4 linked regions of the Homo sapiens genome follow. The main gene of each other region encodes a partner of the protein of the gene in region 2 in a complex. Links are inferred from orthologs where the notes say so. Each region holds a gene or a part of one and is shown on either strand. Other genes may lie near its edges. The genes, in order: ORC4, ORC2, ORC3 and LRWD1.

Evidence for each region.
Region 1: the proteins of ORC2 (region 2) and ORC4 are in contact, whole or in part, in a cryo-EM structure (PDB 7JPP), measured with the Homo sapiens proteins. Residues at the interface, in NP_006181.1 of Homo sapiens: Asp501, Asp504, Tyr508, Ser512, Gln518, Glu522, Val554; in NP_001177808.1 of Homo sapiens: Lys168, Asn169, Arg195, Glu200, Leu201, Lys204, Arg205.
Region 3: the proteins of ORC2 (region 2) and ORC3 are in contact, whole or in part, in a cryo-EM structure (PDB 7JPO), measured with the Homo sapiens proteins. Residues at the interface, in NP_006181.1 of Homo sapiens: Leu239, Glu242, Tyr243, Ala246, His247, Asp268, Arg273, Leu276, Val279, Ser280, Phe283, Glu286, Leu287, Leu290, Lys296, Leu297, His299, Lys300, Met302, Leu303, Gln304, His306, Leu307, Phe309, Tyr314, Gly315, Leu316, Arg320, Glu324, Arg327; in NP_036513.2 of Homo sapiens: Thr3, Ser4, Ser5, Met6, Ser7, Lys8, Gly9, Cys10, Phe11, Val12, Phe13, Lys14, Pro15, Arg20, Ile22, Ile26, Tyr29, Phe30, Lys32, Tyr47, Val111, Thr112, Lys139, Asp318, Lys326, Gln329, Leu330, Leu333, Tyr337, Glu589.
Region 4: the proteins of ORC2 (region 2) and LRWD1 are in contact, whole or in part, in a crystal structure (PDB 8SIU), measured with the Rattus norvegicus proteins. The link is inferred for Homo sapiens from one-to-one orthologs. Residues at the interface, in NP_001012003.1 of Rattus norvegicus: Val11, Pro12, Ser13, Val14, Gln15, Phe16, Val17, Gly18, Asp19, Val22, Leu23, Ser24, His25, Ile26, Leu27, Asp28; in XP_038945348.1 of Rattus norvegicus: Pro262, Leu263, His264, Phe265, Leu266, Gln267, Cys268, Ser270, Asn273, Ser274, Pro275, Leu320, Val321, Leu322, His323, Lys324, Tyr325, Lys326, Leu367, Val369, Gly372, Phe373, Cys374, Pro596, Pro598, Val599, Ala600, Val605, Ile630.

What each region holds. Positions count from the first base shown.
Region 1 is NC_000002.12:147,947,731-147,954,764, forward strand, and holds part of ORC4 (origin recognition complex subunit 4), read right to left. Parts: intron 4,795-7,034; coding exon 4,643-4,794; intron 495-4,642; coding exon 321-494; intron 1-320. UniProt on the Homo sapiens protein: Component of the origin recognition complex (ORC) that binds origins of replication. DNA-binding is ATP-dependent. The specific DNA sequences that define origins of replication have not been identified yet.
Region 2 is NC_000002.12:200,953,650-200,960,683, forward strand, and holds part of ORC2 (origin recognition complex subunit 2), read right to left. Parts: intron 5,792-7,034; 5' UTR 5,743-5,791; intron 4,485-5,742; 5' UTR 4,475-4,484; coding exon 4,381-4,474; intron 3,896-4,380; coding exon 3,752-3,895; intron 1-3,751. UniProt on the Homo sapiens protein: Component of the origin recognition complex (ORC) that binds origins of replication. DNA-binding is ATP-dependent. The specific DNA sequences that define origins of replication have not been identified yet.
Region 3 is NC_000006.12:87,663,109-87,667,959, reverse strand, and holds the end of ORC3 (origin recognition complex subunit 3), read right to left. Parts: coding exon 4,816-4,851; intron 3,218-4,815; coding exon 3,101-3,217; intron 2,207-3,100; coding exon 2,127-2,206; intron 950-2,126; coding exon of another isoform or gene 943-949; coding exon 837-942; 3' UTR 509-836; downstream 1-508. UniProt on the Homo sapiens protein: Component of the origin recognition complex (ORC) that binds origins of replication. DNA-binding is ATP-dependent. The specific DNA sequences that define origins of replication have not been identified yet.
Region 4 is NC_000007.14:102,467,951-102,473,669, forward strand, and holds the end of LRWD1 (leucine-rich repeat and WD repeat-containing protein 1), read left to right. Parts: intron 1-111; coding exon 112-237; intron 238-312; coding exon 313-427; intron 428-603; coding exon 604-704; intron 705-904; coding exon 905-1,112; intron 1,113-1,623; coding exon 1,624-1,696; intron 1,697-1,791; coding exon 1,792-1,932; intron 1,933-3,518; exon of another isoform or gene 3,519-3,581; intron 3,582-4,267; coding exon 4,268-4,359; intron 4,360-4,503; coding exon 4,504-4,659; intron 4,660-4,741; coding exon 4,742-4,854; intron 4,855-4,958; coding exon 4,959-5,099; 3' UTR 5,100-5,218; downstream 5,219-5,719. UniProt on the Homo sapiens protein: Required for G1/S transition. Recruits and stabilizes the origin recognition complex (ORC) onto chromatin during G1 to establish pre-replication complex (preRC) and to heterochromatic sites in post-replicated cells.

The sequences.
Region 1 (7,034 bases), about 53 Mb from region 2:
TGTAAAATATATAAAATAAAATTATCTAAAATATAAACCACATACAGATAAAACTAAAGCCTCATTAAAGTTTACTTCAAACTAATAACATAAATCCTAAAGCTTAACTGTGATGTTCTTTTGAGATAGAATTTAGGAGAAATGACATTTCAACTGTCTAAGAAGAAAATTTTTAAAAAGTATATAATTTGTATTACTGCAGCATTATCCTTCAGCAATATTAGAAACTTTGTGTTAATTTACTAATTTCTAAAATTTGTGTTTTAATTGCTTTAAATCATATAGCAAGGAACATTTAGCTTTATTGCCTTTTAAGATACCTGAACATTTTCATTCCACTTCTCAGCAAAAACCTTGTCTGGAAACTCTGCAGGTAGAGATAACTGTTCTTTAAATATTTTAACATACTGTGGAAAACCAAATGAATTCATTAAGTGTATCTGCCGGTGAGAAAATCTTGACTTCACTCTTTTTTCTAAGAGTTCCAAAATATCCTTAAAAACAAACAGAAATCTCTATAAGGAAGATGAATGTTTTTAAAAAAACAAAAACACTGTACCAATGTTAGAGGTATAAGTAAACTATCACCTATAATTAGTAATGTTTAGTCTACAATACATAATTAAACATTTAAAACATTTTATGCAAACTAAATAATCCACCTCCAGGCATTTGCTGGCTTGGTGATGTCATGCCTTTTTCCCACCATGTTACTCTCAGCTAATCTGTAACATTCCAAGACCCAACATGACTGTTTAAAAAAACTGACAATATTGAATAGCTATATGTCACAATAACACCAAGAGTGTCAATAAGGAATTCTGTACATTCTATGAAGAACTGAGATTAAAAAATTAATAGCATGATAGGCAGCAGGAACCAACTTTAGGAGAGGAAAGTGGCAGAAATGCAACATGGCATTCGTAAGTTATCTTCCGGCTTTTTTTTTTTTATAGTAATGCTTTTAGACTCTATTTGTATTTGTGCTATTTTTCCTTAAAAAGAAATCAGGAATCAAATTTACTGTCAAAGAACACTAAAAACCAAAGGATAACTAATATGTACTGCTTGTAAGGACATACGAAGTGTTCTTAAATGAAGAAAATACTTCCACAAAACTGATAGGCATTCAAACTATCCAAGACATCAAAAGCACAATAGGTAAGCTGTCTTCCTAAGTCACATATATTGCAGGAACTGTCATTCCTAAATCTCTTTTTAATAATGAACTTGAGCAATTTTTCAAAATATATTATAGTACACAGCATATTATATATAATATATATAATTTATATTATATATGTATATATACATCTATATATATACAGTATAGTATAATATATATTTATTACTTAAGTTACACTCCAAGGTATACAACCAAGACAAATGAAACCAGATAACCACAAAAAAAGTGTATGTGAATGTTTGCAGCAGTATTATTTTTAATAGCTTAAGAAATATAAACAACCCAAATGTCCATCAACTGATGAATGGATAAACAAAGTGTGGTATATCTACACAACAGAATATTATTTGGTAATAAAAAGGAATAAAGGGCTGATATATGCTGTAACACAGATCAACTCTGAAAACATGTTAAAGAAGCCAGTCACACAAAACTATACGTTGTATGATTCAAAAATTACTAAACAGTCAGAAAGTGGATTAGCAGATTAGTGGTTGCATAGGGCTGGGGAGGGAACAGGGGATTTGGGGTGATCACTAAAAGGTACGTGGCTCTTAAACTGTGGTGATAAATGCACAACTCTATGAATAAACAAAAACCCTGTTAATTGTATAATTTAAATGAGTGAGTTGTATGGTATAAATTACATCTCAATAAAGCTGTTTTAAAAACAGTGACATGATATTTGATGACTTTAAGGAATTACAGCTAATATAACAATTATATTAGGGAAATATATTTTTAAAGAGCTCTTATCTCCTAAAAATACATTCTAAAATACTTACTGATAAAATGATATAATACCTAGTTTTTGCCTCAAAATAATACAGGAATGAAAGGAGATGTTGAGGATAAATAAAATTAGTCTGTAGTAATTGAATCTTGGCAATGAGTGGAGAAGGGAATTCAGGGCTCATTATTTATTCTTTCCTATGTATATTGTTGAAATGTTATAAAGATTTTTAAAAGGGGAGTAGTTTAAGCCCAGAAATATACATCTCCACATCTAGCCAGATGACTCTCATAATACCTACGTGAAGAAATCATGATATAGAGGAAAGAATTCAAGTGATCAAAATGGGATCATGGTTAGTTTGGGAAGGTGGACAGGAAAGACTAATAGCCTGAGGTAGGAGGTGGGAGGGTGAATAAAAAATTTTGAATGTTTTTATGAGGTCAAAGAAAAGTATAGTGCCAGCATGAGAACTAAAAGACAAGAAAGGTTATATTCAGAGATTCAGATATTGTACATTTATTTTCTATTAAGAAAGAGTTCTAGGTCACCCATATAGGTAGACAGTGGAAGTAATAATCTATACAAGCAACAATTCAGACCCTAAATTTGGGAATGAAAAGAGATGGAAGTAAATACTGTCTTTGTAGTAGGCAGTAATGACAGAAGTTGGCAATGTGGGCATACAGGAACTAGTAAAAACAAAACAAAACCAAAAAACAAAAATGGAATTACTCCCAATGGGGAAGAAGATGCTTGCTGGCAAAGTCACTACTCCCTCTATACTTTTGTTCTCTCCCTATAAACGTGGATACACAGATAAAATTATACTTGAGGCCAGGCGCAGTGGCTCACGCCTGTAATCCCAGCACTTTGGGAGGCCAAGGGGGGTAGATCACGAGGTCAGGAGTTCGAGAGCAGCCTGGGCAACATGGTGAAACCCCATCTCTACTAAACATACAAAAATTAGCCAGGCATGGCGGTGTGTGGCTGTAATCCCAGCTACTCGGGAGGCTAAGGCAGGAGAATTGCTTGAACCCCGAAGGTGGAGGTTGCAGTGAGCCGAGATTATGCCATTGTACTCCAGCCTGGGCGACAGAGCAAGACTCCATCTCAAAAAAAAAAAAAAAGAAAAAGAAAAAAAATTACACTTGAAAGAACTACACAGTTGGAGAATTATATATATACAATAAAAAAGAACATCTGATAACACTGCTAAGAAGTTACTGGCATTTTATTTGGTCCGTTATTGGGTCAACAACACTCACCACAGCCACTTCCACCCAAAGGAAGATTTTTTTTTTTTTGGCAAGAAGGAGGATGCTTCTTTGATCCTTGTCATCGCCTGCTGCTTTTGGCAAGGAGGAATAAAGATATGTGGAGCACCAGCCAGTGATGTATGAGGGATGTTTATACTAAAGCCATGTATCATAAGCTCTAGAGCACAGGAAAGGAGGGGCAAATGACAGTCACTCTATAGAGAAACAGCACTGGAAGGAGGACTGTTGAAATATGAATTAGAAAAAAGTTTCACTTTTCTGAAAAAGAAAAAGGGTTGTAGGAAAGGAGATGTGAACATGTAAATGTGCCTGACACATCTGCCGAGAATGGAGGGGGAAGAGGATTGCAAGAAAGCTATGGAGGCATGGCAGTCATAGCATGAGAAAAGAGACAACTTTGCTATGGTTTGGATATGGTTTGTCCCCACCAAATCTCATGTTGAAATTTAATTGCCAGTGCAACAGTGGGAAGTCACTGGAGTGGACCCTCATAAATAGATTTAATGCCTTCTTACTGGAGTGAGTTCTTGTTCTCATGGGGATAGATTAGTTCTTGAGACAGTGAGTTGTTATAAATTGAGGTTCCAACTCCTATCTGGTTCGTTTTTGCACATTTCGGTTCCCCATTTGACCTTCCACCATGTCATGCAGCATGAAAACCCTTGCAACAAAGCCAGTGCCATGCGCTTGAATTTTTCAGCCTGCAGAACTGTGAGATAAATAAACTTCTTTTCTTTAAAAATTACCAAGTCTCAGGTATTATGTTATAGCAACACAAAATGGGCCAAGGCACTCTTCAATACCAGTTTTATCTGAATTCAGTAAGTTAATACTACATGCGTGTAAGAAGGTAAACACAAAAAGGCCTGTACTGCTGTCCAAAGGTACACATGGTTCAATATGTACAGAGCCTTCACAAGGCAAAGTGATAGTGATATTGAGACTATAGTTAAAATCATTCTAAAATATCCCATGGAATGAAGAAGCCACTATCTACTGTCAGTGCTTGGTAGAATCTTTTCCATTTCTGGAGATGTGTACTTTGAAAGTTGGAATAGTATTACTTAGAGTTGATTTCAAGCCTTTTCAAAATATGGAAAAAAATCTTAAAATAAAAACTATTACCAAGTTTTCTCAAATATTGGTGAGATTTAACCGCCTCATTACTTGATAATGTAGAAATTATATTTATTAGCATAATCTGATTTCATACTTTTTTCTTCAGTAATTTCACTGGGAGGAGGGAGGTATTCATTAATGGGCTAAGGTAACTACTAAACTGTTTTCCTCAATTTGAGTTGAAAGCAGGATAAATACACCAGGCACTGCTGAAACAAAATTTTTAAAATGACCTAAATAAGTGAAAAAAACTAGCAGTGTCAGCAATTAAGCTTGAATTTTAAAATATTATAATCAATTTTTTTAATGAACAGAAAGACTTACCAATCTACATGTAAGACCAATAACTGCTATTGGGGTCTGTGCAGACTGAGAAATGTCAAAAAGATTATAGAGAAGTGTTTGGTTTTTATGATGAGCAAAAAGATCAAATTCATCTAATATGAAGATCACTGGGCAACTGCTAGTTCGGTCACCTAAGATAAAATAAGAGCATTACATTAATAAGAAATTATATCCACCTTTCCTAAATTTCCAAACCATTTACTATATTTCAGTTTTTAAAACTCAATTCTGTAAACATTCTGATAGCCTACTTTGGGTAGGGGATTTACTGATGCATATACGTTCATTCAACAGAAAAAAATTATTCAAAGGACAAACACAGCCCCGACTGCTCTCAAGAAGTTCAGTCTAGGCTGGGCGTGGTGGCTCATGCCTGTAATCCCAGCACTTTGGGAGGCTGAGGTGGGTGGATCACCTGAGGTCGGGAGTTCGAGACCAGCCTGACAAACATGGAGAAATCCCATCTCTACTAAAAATACAAAATTAGTCAGGTGTGGTGGCGCATGCCTGTAATCCCAGCTACTCGGGAGGCTGAGGCAGGAGAATTGCTTGAACCCAGGAGGCAGAGGTTGTGGTGAGCCAAGATCGTGCCACTGCACTCCAGCCTGGGCAACGAGAGTGAAACTCCATCTCAAAAAAAAAAAGTTCAGTCTAGGCCGGGCATGGTGACTCACGCTTGTAATCCCAGCACTTTGGGAGGCCGAGGTAGGTGGATCACCTAAGGTCAGGGGTTTGAGACCAGCCTGGCCAACATGGTAAAACCCCATCTCTGCTATTAAAAAAAAAAAAAAAAATTAGCTACTTGGGAGGCTGAGGCAGGAGAATCTCTTGAACTGCGGAGGCAGAGGTTGCAGTGAGCTGAGATCACACCATTGTATTCTAGCCTGGGCAACAAGAGTGAAACTCCATCTCCAAAAAATAAAAAGTGCAGTCTAGTTCCTAGACTCTAGTAGAGTTTGTTGTTGAAAAATGTCAAAAATCATTTAAATGACTAAAGACTATTATTTTTATAATTACGTAAATATAATTCTTATTTAATGATTATAAAATTGACAGAGTTTTCTATACCTACACAGAACCAAAACACTTTAAGATTAAAATATAAGGGGAGTCACTAATTAATGAACAAAACTAATGCTTTAAAAGAGAGTTGTTTATTTAGTAGAAATACAAGGTACATTTCTTGTAGAAATACTTTTTATAAACAAACTTGTAGATTATAAAGTTCAACTAAAGCCACTTAAACTCCCTTGAAGCACAACTTTTAGCATTTCAACTACAATGCTTTTCATGGGGAAAGTTCCACATCACCCTCTGGTTACATTTTTCTCACTTCAATAATGGAAACAACTTTAGTAAAAGAATCCCTTTTACCTTAGGCTTAACGCCTTTATATTTGTGTTAAAAAGTGAAACAAATATCTGATAAAAGAAAGACTTATTTCAACAAATAACAAATACAGTAGCCTAAATGACTTAATACTGGTACAAAACCAAAGGGATTACTCAAAAGTCTAGAAAGAGACTTATGTACTAATATAGAATTTTAGTATTTGATAAAATATTGCATTATACATCAGTGGGGAAAATTAGTCTATTCAAAGTCAGATCCCTACTTTACAGGTAAAATCAGAATAAATTCCAAACAAATTATAAATTACAAATATATATATATATTAAATAAAAAGATGGATCAATGAATGTTTTTATAATCTGAAGGAGAGAAAAAACTTTCTAGATAAACTTAACTATGTGGAAAACATAAAACTTTAGATCAGCAGAAAAGTCCAAACCAAACTTAAGGGAAGAGAAAAATAAAACACAAAAATTCCGATAAATAAGCATAACATAAACATTACCACAATAGGTCAAAGACCCAACAGGAAATACAGTCGTGTGTCCCTTAATGACAGAGATACGTTCTGAGAAATGTATTGTTAGGTGACTGCATCGTTGTACAAGCATCCTAACAGTGTACTTACCCAAGCCTAGATGGTATAGCCTACTAGACACCTAGGCTATATGGCATAGCCTATTGCTCCTAGGCTATGAACCTATGAGCATGTGATAGTGTAGACAACTGTAACACAATGCGAAGTATTTGTGTATCTAAACATATCTAAACACAGGAAAGGTACAGTAAAAATATGGTTTTATAATCTAATAGGACCACTGTCACATATGTGGTCTATCATTGAATTAAAGGTTGTTATGTGGCACATGACTGTACATAAACCAGGAAATTTCAAAGGTCAATAAAAATATGAAATGACAAGCATCACCACTATCAGAATTATGCAAATTAAGTAACCAGAATTATGCAAATTAAAGAACAAAATTATTCAAATTAAACTAAGAGCTGAAAGTTTTTC
Region 2 (7,034 bases):
AGCATCATTCGCAATACCCAAAAGGTTGAAGCAACCCAAGTGTCCATCTACAGATGAATAAATTTCAGTTTTGTACAATGAGAAAAGTTTGGGAGATTGGTTACAAATGGTGTGAATGTACCTAATGCCACTGAACCCATACACTTTAAAAATGGTTCAGATGCTAAGCTTTTTTGTGTGTGTATGAGATAAATTCTTGCTCTGTCACCCATGCTAGTGTGCAATGGTGTGATTGTGGCTCACTGCAGCCTCAACCTCCTGGGCTCCAGTGATCCTCCCACTTCAGCCTTCTGAGCAGCTAGGACTACAGGTGCATGCCACCACGCCCAGCTAATTTTTGTATGTTTTTTGTAGAGATGGGATTTGGGATTTCTTTCTTTCTTTTTCTTTTTTTTTTTTTGAGATGGATTTTCACTCTTGTTGCCCAGGCTGAAGTGCAATGGTGTGACCTTGGCTCATTGCAACCTCCATCTCCCGGGTTCAAGCGATTTTCCTGCCTCAGCCTCCCGAGTAGCTGAGATTACAGGCACCCACCACCACGCCCAGCTAATTTTTTGTATTTTTAGTAGAGACACGGTTTCGCCATGTTGGCCAGGCTGGTCTTGAATTCCCGTCCTCAGGCGATCCACCCGCCTTGGCCTCCCAAAGTGCTGAGATTACAGGCATGAGCCACTGCACCTGGCCAAAACTAAGTCTTTAGGAAAATGTAACTATGATTAAATAGTGTAATCTGTATAAACTTTAGGAGGATATTTGGCAATACATGTCAAAACTCTTATTGTAGAAGAATGTCTAATGACAGAGTAATGTATATATGATACATTATTAATTGCAAAAAGTCTATTTATAAACGTAATGGTGCAAGCTTATGTGTGCCCATGCATGTATGAACAGACAGAAGATACACACTGAAATGTTAACGGTTCCACGTTCTCTAAAGCAGGCATTCTTGACAGGTACAATACATCTCCCAATTGGGTAAAACTGGATCTTGGCACAGGAGGGAGTGTGGAAAAAAGACTTTGACATTATTAATATAATAGTCTGTGGCCCTCCAAAGCGTCACAGTACATAAACAGATATACAGCATATATGTAGTACTGAAATTTTTAGGGTGGGAAAAAGTGATTAGGAGAAAATGTCTAAAAAGGCTAATTAGGGGTCAATAATTTTAAAAAGGTTGAAAAACATAGGGCATGATGCCAAAAAATAAGGCAAAGTTCCCCAGTGTGAGGAATGAATGAATGAATGAATGAATAAATAAATAAATAAATAAATAAATAAATAAATGGTATGGGTTTCATATGTGCTGAGTACTGATTCTCTCAGGCCTTTGAGGATGCCAATCAAGGCCAGTAGCAGGGGTAGGGTTAGGGCCCTGGGGTATTTGTCCTTGGTCTGCAGCATCCTCTTCTATTTATTCCATTGTGCCTCCAAATATCATTTGCTGTGAGTGCTGTTATGTGAGAAAGGTTGGAAGCACTGAATTTCTACAACAAACATACTACTTTTTTAAGAGACAATTTTTATGATAAAAGTTTCCTTTGTGGAATACTGTTATCAATCTCTTCTTAGGCCTGGCATAATAGGGAGTCAAGAACACCAAGTTTTATTTAGAATATGCTCAAAAAATGTCAACTGTCTAGCTGTGGACACATAGGAGACCCTACCCAGCCCACTAAATCTATTGAGGAGCAGTGGTCATTTTTTGTATAACTCTATACATGGAGTATATGACTCTACCCCCATAGTTAATGAACTATGTAATTATGTTCATTAATATAATAAGTAATAGGCACAGATAACTCAACTGTGATTCATCTGTGGATATTCCAATTATATGCTATTTCTATGTCCAGATTTTAAAAATGAATTGAGCTAAATTGACTCTTGAGAATCTAGAATGGGAGAACTGAAAAACCAAATCACTTAACACTGGGAACTTGATGGACATTTATAAGTATGTGAGAATAAAACACATGTACATGAAGAAAATATGTGGCATAGAGAAATCAGAACAGATGCACAGAGATGACACAGGGAGACCTGGAGACTCATGAAAGCACAGTTCCTCAGTTTTTAACACTGTCCCAGTTCCAACTCTCCTAGTACCCAACAATATTGATTTCTTTCCTTTGTCATTATTTTTTTAAGCTAGGTTGTGGGGATCTGTGTTCCTTGTACCCAGGAAAAACCTAACTAAAATATAATTCGAACCTAAAAAAATGTTTTATGTTAAGAATAATCTTGCAGGAATCTGGCTTAGATGTAAAAATTAAAACCACACACATAATACCAGCATCCCTGGGTTAGAACACTACTTCTTGAAATGCTCCTCCTAGTTCTGTAAAGATCAAGGTAAGAATAAAGTAACTTGCTTTAGAAAGGTATTTTAAATAAGTTAAAAATATAAATATCTTTTTTTTGTTCTGTTTTGACCTAGGGTCTCGCTTTGTCACCCAGGCTGAGTATAGTGATGCAATCACAGCTCACTGTAGCCTCAACCTCCTGGGCTCAAGCAATCCTCTGCGTTAGCCTCCCAAGTAACTAGGACTACAGGCACACGCCACCATGCTCAGCTAGTTTTATTTTTTTTTTGAGACAGGGTCTCACTCTGTTGCCCAGGCTGGAGTGTAGTGGTATGATCACGGCTCACTGCTGCCTCAACCTCCCAGGCTCAAGTGATCCTCCCACCTCAGCCTCACTCATAGCTGGGACCACAGGTGTGTGCCACCATGCCAGGCTAGTCTCAAACTCCTGGACTCAAGCGATCAATCTGCTTTGGTCTCCCAATATGCTGAGATTACAGGCATGAGCCATCACACACCCAGCTTCCAGCTAATTAAAAACTTTTTTTTTTTGTAGAAACGGGATCTTACTATGTTGCCTAGGATGGTTACAAACTCCTGGGCTCAAGCAGTCCTCCTGCCTCAGTCTCCCAATGTACTGGGATCACAGGCGTGAGCCACCATGTCTGGCCATAAATAAATACCTTAAAAATAGTACTAGCTACTCAGGTGGCTAAGTTGGGAGGATCTCCTGAACCCAGAAGTTGGAGGCTACAATGAGCTATGATTGTGCCATGGCATCCCAATCTGGGTGACTGAGCAAGACCCTGTCTCTAAAATAAATAAATAAATAAATAAATAATCTTGAAAATAACTTTAGGAGTACTATGCAGCCATAAAAGGAATGAGATCATGTCCTTTGCAGGGACATGTATGAAGCTAGAAGTCATCATCCTCAGCAAACTAACACAGGAACAGAAAACCACACACTGCATATTCTCACTCATAGGTGGGAGTTGAAAAATGAGAACACATGGACACAGGGAGGGGAACAACATATGCCACAGCCTGCGGGTGGGTGGAGGGAGGGAGAGCATAAGGACAGACAGCTAATGCATGTGGGGCTTAAAACCTAGATGATGGGTTGAAAGGTGCAGCAAACCACCATGGCACATGTATACCTATGTAACAAGCCTGCACATTGTACACATGTATCCTGGAAAAATTTTAAAAATAAAATAACTTTAGAGTGGTTGGTCTATAGATTCCTTCTTACTGAAAACTATGTGCAGGACTGGTTGTTAAAAAAAAGAACTATGGAGAAATTGAAGCAAATGCTTTTTAGATGAGAAACATGATCATATAGAACACCACTGTTTAACCTACCAGACTACTTTTGTGTATCCTATAAAGCAATTTCTGCTACTAGCAGAAACGAGTGTATATTTCACCCCCTCAAATACCTTGAACATCTCTTCCCATAATTTCCACATAGTTCTGATCTTTTAAGACCTCCTGGTCATCTTCCTCCAAATCATATTCTGGCTTCTTTATTATTTTTTTGGGGTTGACCAAAAGCTGCGCTCGCTCCTTCTTCAATTTAGCTCCTATAAGAACATCCAAAGAAATAGAGCATGACAGGTATAAATTCTTTCTAAACATTACATTTAAATAAGAAATTATAATATTTATATTGTCATTACTTAAAAGCTGGGAAAAAAGCTTTCTCTTTGATTAAAACTGACCACTCTGACCACTCTTCCACAGTTTATATAGTTAAAAAAAAAAACACACACAATCTTGAAAGTATATATTTTTAGGGTTCAAAATAACCACATATTTTAAATTACAATGGGTAGTTATTAGTGACTACCACTCCTGGGCATTTTGTTTTATATTAGGCTTTACTGAACATTTTCAATTAAAGTTTGAAAGAATTAAACTAAAAATTAAAGCAGTTTTTATTTAGTTTTACTAACCAGATCAATCCTTTGCGCTATATTTTCAAAAGAAAATGTTAAAAGTTTTAAAAGTGAAATAATCCATAAACATTATAATAAGCATCTCTTCAAATTGTACAATCACTTAATACCTCCTTCTCTATCTAGAATGTGATTAAGAACATCATCATCTCCCACAAAGTGAACCTCCAGCATCTTGTCTTCCTTTAATTCTGGTTTACTCATTGTTGCCAACCTAAACAAAAACAGTAAGTTACTCAAAAGTGATGAAGAATTCATATCAACCACCAAATTAAACATTCACATAATGAATACATGTCTTTATCTAATATTTTTAAAGTCTTTTTAAGTATAAAAAATACATTATGCATTACTGTATTACTACATATTCAACTGTAGGTAACTCAATTCTTTATCTAAAAAATTGGGGAGGCAAAGAGATTCTGAGATTTGAGAAGAGCTAAATCCAATCAAGGTAGCTAAAATATACTCAGAAAAATAAAATAAAATATTCTCAGAAAAACAATTTTAAGTTTTAATGAAAGCTCTAACCAATCCAGATAAGCACATTAACAGAAAGGGGGTGGTTAATACATGAGTGTTTAGAAAAGTGACAGCCAAACAAAGAATAATGCTTTAATGGATTTTATTATCTGTTCACTAGAAAGCTACAGTCAATTGTGGGGAGTCTGTTAAACTTCACTTGTGTCCTAAGCCTGGATCAAAAAACCCTCAAGCACCTCCCTTTACTTTTATGGAATGCTTACCAAACAACTTTACAAATATGAATATGGCTTTCTAGATATCTTGGTAACTAAACAGTAAACACAAATCTTTCGAACACTTTACACTCAGTTCCTCACTGAACAAACCTCCAGAGTTTGGCAAGCAAAAGTTTGATCAACTCTGGCTAGTCTCACAAAATGAACTTTCAGAACTTACTATGCTACTGGCCTGAAAATAACTAATGATGATTTTAACTGCTGCCAGCTAATCAGTTTACCCAAAAAATGTAAACTAAGATTCAGTGTTCTTGGTGATTTCTTTTCTCTTCTCTCTTTCTTACAATCTTGTTTTCACCTTTTCTTTTGGCAGGAGAAACTATTGACTGTGTCTCTCTTTTCTTTCTTTTTTTATTGAGACAGGGTCTCACTGTGTTGCTGCAGCCTCAACCACCTGGGCTCAAGCAATCCTCCCATCTCAACCTCTGAAGTAGTTGGGATTACAGGCACATGCCACCATGCTTGGCAGGTTTTCCTTTTTTTGTAGAGATGGAGCCTCACTATGTTGCCCAGGCTGGTTCTGAGCTCCTGGAATTAAGCAATTTTCCCACCTCACCCTCCCAAACCTCTGGGATTTACAGGCATGGGCCACCACCACAGTCATTTATCTCTTCTGAGTTCATTAACTGCAGGAAGAAAACTAATTCAATGTTACCAAGTTTTATTTTGACAAGCAACATGCTTAAATGACTTCTTTCAGTTTTCATTTACCTTTTAAGGTACTACACATTCTGCAGCTGCAAAATTCAGATACAGTCACCTGTAATTGGAAAAATAACTCAGTCAGGGTCAGCTAGCAGAAAAATGAAAGCAATGGGGCAAAAACAAGTTCCACAAGTTTTAACAAGCATGATGAATAGATACATGTAGACCTTACAAAGCCAAAGCTGTTGTAATGGTATAGTAAAGGACAAAAAGACCATTACTGATTTGGCTAGGAAGCCCTAGATACTGAGAACATCTGGATGGAGTGGGAAGAGAGGAGGACAAAATTTGAGCACTTACATTGTGCTAGACAGTTTTGAGTACTCCATATGTATTCTCATTTAATCTGCACAACTCTATGAGGTTCATACTTTGTGTATAAAGATAATAAATAGTGGGCTGGGTGCAGTGGCTCATGCCTATAATCTCAGTGCTTTGGGAGGCTGAGGCAGGGGGATCCCTTGAGGCCAGGAGTTGAAGACAAGCCTGGCAACAGTAAGGCCTGCCTCTACCAAAAAAAAAAAAAATTAGCTGGGCGTAGTGGCATGTGCCTATAGTCTACTCGGATTGGGCAACAGAGTGAGACTCTGTCTCTAATTTTTTTTTCTTTTTTTTTGAGACAGGGTCTGGGCTCTGTCACCTAGAGCAGTGGTATGATCTTGGCTCACCACAGCTCCAACCTCCTGGGCTCAGGTGATCTGCCCACCTCAGCCTCCCATACAGCTGGGACTACTAGCTTCTGCCACCACGTCCAGCTAACTTTTGTATTTTTTGTAGAAATGAGGTTTCACCATGTTGCCTAGGCTTGTCTCAAACCTTTGGGCTCAAGCGATCTACCCACCTCTACCTCCCAAACTGCTGGGATTACAGGAGTGAGCCACCACACCAGGTCAAAAAAATTTTTTTAAACAACAACGACAACAAAAAATTGTGGACTTGGCTGTGATATGAAGGAAAAATTTTAAAAATAAAAATAAAAAATAAAGATAATAAATACTTCATCTATAACTTATGACCATTGCTTGTAAAACATGTCCTCTTGGGCCATTTTTCTAGTCATAATACTGTTTCCTATTATGGGGAAACTGGGTGTATTAGAGAAAAAGTTTAACCCATTTATGTAATATTTGTATAAAATAAAGCAACAGGTTTTTTAAGGGGCTGTTTGTGAGGCACTGTATTAGGCACATTTATGTACACCAGCTCATTAAATCCTCAGATTCTCTGACTTAGGTATTTTGCATCTCTCTCTTTATATATATAATGTCCCCAACTTACAAATGAGTAAACTGAGGTCA
Region 3 (4,851 bases), on a different chromosome or scaffold from region 2:
ATAAAGCCAAACAGTTTGGGACTTTTTTTTTTGACACGGAGTCTCACTCTGTCACCCAGGCTGGAGTGCAGTGGCCGATCTCAGTTCACTGCAACCTCCGCCTCCCGGGTTCGAGCAATTCCCCTGCCTCAGGCTCCCGAGTAGCTGGGACTACAGGCATGTGCCACCACACCTGGCTAATTTTTTGTATTTCTTAGGAGAGATGGGGTTTCACCTTGTTGGCCAGGATGGTCTCGATCTCCTGCCCTTGTGATCCACCCGCCTTGGCCTCTCAAAGTGCTGGGATTACAGGTGTGAGCCACCACGCCTGGCCTTTTTTTTTTTTCTTTAAAGTTGTAAGACTACAGGAAATGGAGAGGCAGAGACAGTTTTGGAACCTATGTAGTCACCAGGAGAAACAACCTGTAAGATATTCATGTTACTTACTGCCTACTACACTAAAGTGAGGAATGCCAATGCAGGGAATTGGGAGAGGAGGAATGAGGATTGCTAAAGCAACTGCAAATAATTTATACTCCTGGATAACGGAATTTATTACATTTACATACTCTAAGTTCAAGAATGATTTACTCACAATTTAGTAATGACTTTGGAAAGTACAGTAAAATGTGTGAGCAGTTTTAGTTACATTATTATTTGTTGGAGTCTAAAGTACTCCACAGGTGTTTTGATACATGCCTGTTTGGGGTTAGCAATGTACTTTTCTGGTTAAACATCAATGGGGGTTACACATTTATCTTCTCAACAAAACAGGCTCCTCTAATATATGTAAATATGACTGGTCACCTTTTTCTCTTAAGCTAAATGTGATAGTTCTGGCTTTGCTTATTTGCTTTCTAGCAGCCTCCCCATGTTAGTCTTGCCACATGGTCAGTCTTCTGTTTGGTAGGTTTTATAAATCCTAAAAGTTCTAGTTCAGAAACAGCTCTAATAAACCGAGCACTGGAGGCTTTAATTAAGGAAACTGGCCGTGCTGTATTTTTGACAAAAAGGGATTAAAATCTCAATGTTAAAATACTAGTTGGTAAAATGAAGTAGATAGTTCAGATATAAACTCCTAAATTAAACTATAACTGTTACTGGAAAACATTAATTAGAATCCACTATCAATAAAACATAAATGGAAAAGTACTTAATGCTTCCTAAATCTAATGTTCTACATAGTATGGAAATTGCTCCCCGCCCCCACTTCTAAACGTACATTAGAAAAATAGAGAATTCAGACCAGGTCAGTGGCTCACACCTGTAATCCCAGCACTTTGGGAGGCCGAGGCAGGCAGATCACCTAAGGTCAGGAGTTCAAGACCAGCCTGGCCAACATGGTGAAATCCCATCTCCCCTAAAAATACAAAAATTAGCCAGGCATGGTGGCAGGCGCCTGTAATCCCAGCTATTTGGGAAGCTGAGGCAGGAGAATCGCTTGAACCCGGGAGGTGGAGGTTGCGGTGAGCCGAGATCGTGCCACTGCACTCCAGCTTGGGCAACAATAGCAAAACTCTGTCTCAAAAAAAAAAAAAAAAAAAAGAATTAGGCCGGGTGAGGTGGCTCACACCTATAATCCTAGCACTTTGGGAGGCCAAGGCGGGCGGATCACAAGGTCAGGAGTTCGAGACCAGCCTGGCCAACATGGTGAAACCCCGTCTCTACTAAAAATACAAAAATTAGCTGGGCTTGGTGGCAGGCACCTGTAATCCCAGCTACTTGGGAGGCTGAGGCAGGAGAATTGCTTGAACCCAGGAGGCGGACGTTGCAGTCAGCCAAGATCGCACTACTGCACTCCAGCTTGGGCGATAGACGAGACTCCGTCTCAAAAACAAACAAACAAACAAAAAAAACAAAAACCAAAAAAAGAGAATTCAATAATGGCAGTTTCATTTTTGGTAAATTTTAAAATATAATCTTGATATAAATTTGATACCAAAAGTTTTAGGTTTGGTCTCATTTTGGATTAAATTCAAAATAAAGATTCAGAAATTTCAGTTATTCTAGCACCATATGGTTAATATTAACAAGTAATACGGTTGTTTGGAGTACGCCTTTATAAATATCTAGTGTAGACCTGGAGAAATTATAAACTTATATTTTATGTGTAGTTGGACATTGTAGAAATGGTTTTAAAAGGATACTGGATAATTTCATTCATTTCTTCTGAGGTTGCAGAATTTGCATCCATTTTTTCAGCAGCTGTCACAACTGTTGCAAAAGCCTTTTGAATAGACAAGACAGAAGAAAATAAAAATGTCTACAGTTGCCAAACATCTTTTACTATACTTCTTTTAATGGCTGTTGATAGCTGGCACATATTCTTCATTATATCAAATTTAAGATTGTCAAAACTACACTGATGATCACTTTAAACCACTTATATATTAAAAGATAAAGTAATGGTTCCTGAATAATCTTGTTTCAGAGAACTAAGAGTATGCAGAGAAAAGAAACGAAGCTAGTCAAAGGTAAAAGAACAAGAAAGCCCTGTTTCCTCTACTAATCTTACTCCAGGAAAATATCTATTTTTCTTGGAAGCAGCCAATTATGGATATTTTTTAATGGTGACAAGACATCTGTAAGGCCTTTAATAGAGTTAAGATCTTTGTAATACTATTCTGAAGACAGAAAGAATAGTTGTTTATTTTAAAGAATAACAACAGTTGTTTATTGCCTTGCCAAGTATTCCTTATACTTCCTGATTGCTAAATCTGTTGTGTAGTTACTTCAATTTTTTTTCTTTTAAGCAAGAAGAGAAATGCTAGTTAATAATATACTTTATTTTGTGAAATAACAGAACTGACCTAAATTGTTTAGTTTTTGCTTAATGCTAACTATTGGGTTAGATCACATACTTATTTTGACCTAGCATGAACACAGAATTGGCTTGGTTAAGGAATTCAGGATCAGAGGGCAGGGGATTGGGAGTGGGGACTGTTGAACTACCACTTCCTAAGGAACTTTTAAAGTTTGAAATGATTTATGCTTTCCAAATAAAAGACAAGGCATTAAACACAAGATAAATTCCAAAGCACTAAAAGTATAAAACTATTCTGAGAAAGTCATCATGGATGGTTAGAAAAATATCTAGCTTGTTCTTTTCCCTACAACCTACCTCTGACCAGTCCACGAGGTTGATGAGCCTGCTACACTCTAGGTGCAGTTTGTATGCTATGCAGATGTCTGGGGCGATATTCGGAATGCAGCCTTCTTCGCTTTTCAGTGCTTCATTCTAACAATTAACAGTAAACTAAGATGACTAACTTTTATAAATTATTAGGAATAAAATCAGACATTAATGAAGCCCCCAACCTAAACTGAGTAAACCAGTAAATGGAATCTTGGTTTCCCTTATTTAGTGAGTGAGTCTATTCAATAGTTAGCTAGTTCTTGTTTAGGTTTATGTCTTGGTCATAACCCCTCTAGTTCTTAGTCACTAGAAGAATATTCCCAGGATTAGAAGATAAGCATATTTTTCATTTCAATCCATAAATTACTAATTTCTCAGACCTGAATGCACTTAATGTAAAAAGTTTATGGAAATCTTTAGGAATACTTAATAAAATGGTACTTCCAACACTTATAATTAGCTGAATTCTAACAATTACTATACTGTATTAGTAAATACTAATACCACTTACCAGGGGTATAAATTTCTTTTAAAGAAAAGACTACGTTGTCAACACTGCAGACCTTAAGCCCTATAGAAACCATCAGTGTTTCTTCAACCTATTTGAAATCCATGGCTTTTACTGAGAAACACAAAGTCTTACATACACACCCTGCTCTGATATTATAATATCAGGGGTATATTATAATATATCCCACCCAAAGACAACTGAAATCATACCAGTTCTCTTCTGTGACCCACCAGCCAAGAAGAAGACAGATTTTGTAAGTTTTAATTTATGGTTTATATATTAAAATTAACTGATTTTTTGGTTAAGTATGAAATTATTCAGTGGTTTTCACCATCACTGAAAACCATTGACTTATATCGTCCTACTCAATATTCTTGTAATACTCTGCATGTTTGTGTGCCGTTTTGCAATGAGAAGCCAGTACACTGGAATGCTCTTCATAGGTCTTACGGAGTTGTTTCTTAAGTATTTATTGTGGCAAGATTTCTGGGTATTTAACTTACCACTCTTTCATGTATATACAGCTTATTGAATGTTTAAAGTGATCATTTTGCCCGGTCATAAGAAAGCTAGTTTCTAAAATTGTGAGCTGTCTTGAACTATTGTTTAAAGAGCTTCCAGGAGTTGATAACTGTGTCTGGACTTTAGCAAGGGCAGCTGAAGTGTGCTGCCCCAGGAGTTTTAGTGGCAGACTGCTGGTTATCCTCTACACTCAGCTCTGCAGATGCTCTCAGAATAGACCTTTCTTTGTTTTAAAATCCAAGATGAAGTCCCAAAGTATTTCTCTTTCCCACTAGAAACAACCATTTCGGTCTTTCAGTAATTTATTAGGCCATATTGTTTAATCCCTGTCTGCTGTTATGTTTACAGGAAACATTTCTTTTATTTTCACAAGAGTGGTAACATTATACTCTCAAGTCTTTGTGCCTATGATCTGACTTTAGCATGTGAAGGGCAAAGATTACACATGGTCAAAAACTGGCAGCAACAGTTGACTACTAATTGCTATCTTTATGGGGTTAGAAATTTTTTTCTACAGTCTAAAGAATTTTTAAAAATATATGAGACGTGCAACCCTGAATTGCCGACTCTCTGCTCATTAAAACATAACTGCAAATTTAGTATATTTTTATGACAATGACGCCCAGAGTCTGAGCTAAACTATCAGAAAACTAAATGTTCATCTTACCTTGAGATAATAGTAAGGATTGTTGAGTGCAGTATG
Region 4 (5,719 bases), on a different chromosome or scaffold from region 2:
CCCGGGCCAGCCTGGGCCTCCTGCATCCGCAGTGAGGTGGGGTCCAGCCTGTGATGGGGAGGAAGGAAGCCCCAGGCAGACAGGCCCATGGTCACAAGGCCCCCTCCACAGGCCAGACTGGCGGCCTTGAAACGGCCAGACGACGTCCCACTCAGCCTCTCTCCCAGCAAGCGGGCGTGTGCCTCCCCGTCGGCCCAGGTGGAGGGCAGCCCTGTGGCAGGCTCCGATGGCAGCCAGGTGAGCTGAGGTGGCAAGGAGCAGGTGGCAGATGAGTCGGGGCTGGGCAGCTGTGACCCTTCTCTCCCCCCACAGCCTGCTGTGAAGCTGGAGCCCCTGCACTTCCTGCAGTGCCACAGCAAGAACAACAGCCCCCAGGACCTCGAGACCCAGCTGTGGGCCTGTGCCTTCGAGCCGGCCTGGGAGGAGGGTACATGGTGGCGGGCAGGCGGGGCAAGGGCCGCTGGAAATAGGGCCGCCTGGATGGGTGGGGGATCAGGAGACAGAGCTTAAAAGGCGCCATCAAGGCTGGGAGGAGGAGGCTGCAGGGAGGACCTAGATGGGAAATGTCTCTGCTCATCCGACCTCTCAAAACCGGGCACTCAGGGGCCACATCCCAGACCGTGGCCACGTGCGGCGGGGAGGCTGTGTGCGTAATTGATTGCCAGACGGGCATCGTGCTCCACAAGTACAAGGCACCCGGCGAGGTGAGTGCAAGGCCCTGTCCCTGCTGGGCAAGGGTGCCCGACTGACTCCTGAACAGCAGCATGGGGATGGATGCAGGCTCGGCCCCCTGCCCCATGGCCTTTTTCTTTCATGCTGGGGCTCCCTCCCCCAGGCCCGGGCTACCCGCGTGTTCACACCAATAGCTCTGCCCCAGTGACTGTTTACTCTAACCCCCGCCCAGGAGTTCTTTTCTGTGGCCTGGACCGCTCTGATGGTGGTCACACAGGCTGGCCACAAGAAGCGCTGGAGTGTGCTGGCGGCTGCAGGCCTACGGGGCCTGGTCCGGCTGCTGCACGTGCGTGCCGGCTTCTGCTGCGGGGTCATCCGAGCCCACAAGAAGGCCATCGCCACCCTGTGCTTCAGCCCCGCCCACGAGACCCATCTCTTCAGTAAGCCCCTCCCCTTCACCCCTGGGACCCCCAAGCACCCCTGTCCTGCTGCCCCAGTAGCCTCCACGCTCCCCTCCCTGGGATGGCTGTGAGCTCGGGCGCCTGCCGGGCCCCAGTCTGCACCGCTCCGACTCTAGCTTTGGCAGGAAGCCATGTCGCTTCAACCCTGGCTTTATCCACAGCCTGCTCTGTGGCCTCGGAGTTTTCCAACAGCCTGGGCCACTCTGTCCCCTGTCAGTGACCTGGGGGGATGCCCCTGCCCCCGGGTGTGGCGCCCCTGTCAAGGGGGATGGATGAGCCACAGGAAGTGGCCGCTGGAGCCACCGCATCAGGTTAGATGGAGGAAACAGGGATTGGGGGCCCAGGAGTGTTCCTGTCTCCTAGCCTCGGCCCGCCCTCCCCGCCTCGGAGGGGCTGGCCTTGGGACCGTGGGCTCAGCCTGGGATGCAGCCAGCAGGAGGGAGCAGGGTCATCTCAGGGCCACTTCTCCCCTACCCCACCCCCTCTTCAGCGGCCTCCTATGACAAGCGGATCATCCTCTGGGACATCGGGGTGCCCAACCAGGACTACGAATTCCAGGCCAGGTGATGCTTCGGGTGAGGCTGGGGAGTGGCCAGCTGCTGGGGCAGGGACACCTCGGTCTGGGTCTGATGCTCTGTTCCCCCTTGCCCACTGGCAGCCAGCTGCTCACACTGGACACCACCTCTATCCCCCTGCGCCTCTGCCCTGTCGCCTCCTGCCCGGACGCCCGCCTGCTGGCCGGCTGCGAGGGCGGCTGCTGCTGCTGGGACGTGCGGCTGGACCAGCCCCAAAAGAGGAGGTGAGGCTGGGCAGGGGGCGCCTTGGAAGCCAGGCCTCTGCAGAGGGTGGCTGTTGGCCCAGATGGGCTCACAGCAGCCTGGGCACACCCGGGTAACCATAAGGGTTGTTTTTAGAGGCCTCTTCGCAGAGCTGGCTTGTCCCACCTTTCTGCCAGGCTCTGGAGGAAAGGACTCTGACCCTGCTCTCACCCTGGGTTCAGCTGTGGGACTGGGCCATGATGACCTCCCCTTCACCTGGGGCTTCAGCACCATGCTGTGCCCACGTGATCCAGCCCACTCCTGCCACTCATCAGCAGTGTGATGGTCCTCTGTGCTGGCATAATGTCCTCATCTGTAAAGAGGGGCCGATGGCTAGCGGAGGGCAGGTGAGGTGGTGTCTGGGCAGGCAGGCTTTGGAAGTGCCACGTTGAGGCTTTCTGGCTCATCTGTCCCACCTGGAAGGCCTCTGAGACAGGGCTTGGCAAGGGGTCCCTGTCCTCTTGGGGCCCCCAGCCTACTGGGGAAGACAGATGCTCAGCAAAGGTGGCCAATCAAAATCCCACAGTGTGATGCCAGCTACGAAGGAGACGGAAAAAGAGTAACGGGCAGAGGGACACTAGCGTGGGGGCCTCAGGGGACTCTGCTGAGGTGACCAGCGGCAGATGGATATTCTGGGGCTCACGCTTTCCTCCCTGGGAGCCTGGTGAGGGAGTCAGCGGGCGGAGGGTGGGGAGGTGCTTGCATGGAGGAAATGGTACGTGCAAAGGTCAGTGGCAGGGGAGCCAGCTGGCCTGCTCCACCATGTGGCCACAGCTGGGTGGACCCAGCCCAGAACAAGGTGGCAAGGGTGCCTGGGCGGGGCACGCCGGGCTTCGTCAGCCACGGTAAGCTTTGCATTTCTATTTATTTACTTTTTATTTGAGATAGAGTCTCCCTCTTGTCACCCAGGCTGGAGTACAGTGGCTCGATCTCGGCTCACTGCAACCTCTGCCGCCAGGTTCCAAGTGATCCTCCTGCCTCAGCCTCCCGAGTAGCTGGGATTACAGGCGCACGCCACCATGCCCGGCTAATTTTCTTTTCTTTGAGATGGAGTTTCACTCTTGTTGCCCAGGCTGGAGTGCAATGACACGATCTCGGCTCACTGCAATTTCCACCCCCCCACCGGGTTCAAGCAATTCTTCTGCCTCAGCCTCCCAAGTAGCTGGAATTACAGGTGCACGCCAACACGCCTGGCTTATTTTTGTATTTTAATAGAGATGGGGTTTCACCATGTTGGCCAGGCTGGTCTCGAACTCCTGACCTCAGGTGATCCACCCGCCTCAGCCTCCCAAAGTGCCAGGATTACAGATGTGAGCCATTGCACCCAGCTGACTTTTGTCTTTTTAATAGAGACGGGGTTTCACCGTGTTGGCCAGGCTGGTCTCGAGCTCCTGACTTCAGGTGATCCACCCACCTCAGCCTCCCAAAGTGCTGGGATTACAGGTGTGAGCCACTGCCCTGGGCCAAGATTTGGATTTTTAGCTTACCTACAACAAACAGCCCAGGAGGAGCTTCGACACAGCAGCTGCTGTGTTGAAAGGAGCAGCAGGGGCCTTGGCGGCAGAGGTGGTGGCGGCGGTAGTTATGGGCTTCTCTTTCTCACCAGCAGCCCCTGGGCCGCCGCCTCCCTCCCTGCCCGTATGTCTGGTCCCTGTGTCTAAGATGCTTCTTCTCTTACCCTCTGCCCAACTGGCTCAGGCCTGGCCCATGGTTAGCTGCTGGGCCACTCTCCTGGCTCCAGGCTAGCCTCCGAGAGTCAGGTAGCTGCCGGGACACTTCTCCAAGCAGACACTCCCACACACTCTCAGCTCTGAACCATGCAGCAGCCATTCCCTCATTCCCCCATTCCCCCGTCTTTTGAGTCAGAGCAGATGCCCCCAACAGCCCCCTGGGCCATGGCCCCCCATTCCCCCGTCTTTTGAGTCAGAGCAGATGCCCCCAACAGCCCCCTGGGCCATGGCCTGGAAACACCTGCTCTACTTGGCTGCCAGGAGGCCCCTGTTCATCTCACACTCGGTCCCAGAGGCACTGGCTCGCTTCAGAGCCTTATCCAACCCCCTGGCCTAGCCCCGTCCTGGAAGAGCCACCCCTCGTGCCTCTGGGTCACTACTGTGACTCGGGACACTCAGGTGCTGGCTCCCCCTTCCAGGGCAAACTGAACCTTCCTGGGGCCAAGAATGTATCTCTTTGGTGGCATCTTCTGTGCAGCCTTCACACAGGGCAGGGTCCCCAGCAGGTGCGCTGCAGATGCCTGGGTGAGTGGGCAGCTCTCTATCTGCAAGGAATGGCCAACTAGCATCTCGTGCTGCCCCACAGGGTGTGTGAAGTGGAATTCGTCTTCTCTGAGGGCTCCGAGGCATCTGGACGGAGAGTGGATGGGCTGGCATTTGTGAATGAGGACATCGTGGGTGAGTGAGCTCAGCTTGTGGGACAGCCTGGCCTCCGGGCACACAGATGGACCGCTTGTCCCTGGGCTAGGCTTCTGAGGATCTCTAGTGGGAGAAGGTGTCTGGGAGGGGCCACCCTGCACAGCTCTCCCTTCTCCCCCACAGCCTCCAAGGGGAGCGGCCTGGGCACCATCTGCCTGTGGAGCTGGAGGCAGACGTGGGGGGGCCGGGGCAGCCAGTCCACGGTGGCAGTGGTGGTCCTGGCGCGGCTGCAATGGTCGTCCACCGAGTTGGCCTACTTCTCGCTCAGCGCCTGCCCTGGTGAGCCTGCCCCCCTGCCCGCCCCATCCCGCGGGCTTCCGGGAGCTCTGCCCCCACTCAGACTCCACCTCTGTCCCGGCAGATAAGGGGATTGTGCTCTGTGGGGATGAGGAGGGCAACGTGTGGCTCTACGACGTCAGCAACATCCTGAAGCAGCCACCCCTGCTGCCGGCAGCCCTGCAGGCCCCCACACAGGTACTGCCCGGCTCACCCTGCCCAGGCTTGGGCTGGCAAGGCATCAGGGGCCCTGCCTTTGGTCAGCAGGAGCCCAGCCCAGCCCTCCCCTCTCTCCCCACCAGATCCTGAAGTGGCCCCAGCCCTGGGCCCTTGGCCAGGTGGTGACCAAGACCATGGTGAACACAGTGGTGGCCAATGCCTCCTTCACCTACCTCACCGCCCTGACGGACTCCAACATCGTAGCCATCTGGGGGAGGATGTAGCCTCACACCATCGCAAAGGACCAGGGACACAGCTAACTAACTTATTCAGCTTTGGGCCGATGGGGGTGGGGGGGGGTCTTTCAGTGAATATTTTTATTAAACTCTACTGTGGACAAGAAGCCTGTGGAAAGGTGTTTCGAGTTATGCAGGAAGAAGTGTTCCTGCTTTGACTGACAGGCAGGCCCAGGAGTTGAGGCTTCTAGAGCAGAGACTCTTGGGAGCTCATGGGTTTGCACACTTCTCTCCGGCTCAGCACAGCCCCCGCAGCAGCCCCTGGACCCCGGATCTTTGGTCCAGAATGAATTCATCCCTGCCAGCCGGACGCCCCTGAAACAGGTCATCTGCCTGCATCAAGCCTGACAATCCATTTGCTTGCGAAGTCACCGCTGCTCAAGTCCACATCCAGGTCTCTCCCGCTATACTTTATTAGGAATATAAAACCTAATCTATGTACAGGACACGTCGGTGTCAGGGTGAGGGGTGGCCACAAGGCGGGCCATGGCTGGGACCGGCCGCTCTCCTCGGTGTGGTACCTGGAGCGGAGGGTCAGGCACAGGTAGGAACGGGGCTCACAGGCCGAGCAGAGCCCCCTCTGGCCCCTACTCAATTCCTTCCTGCTT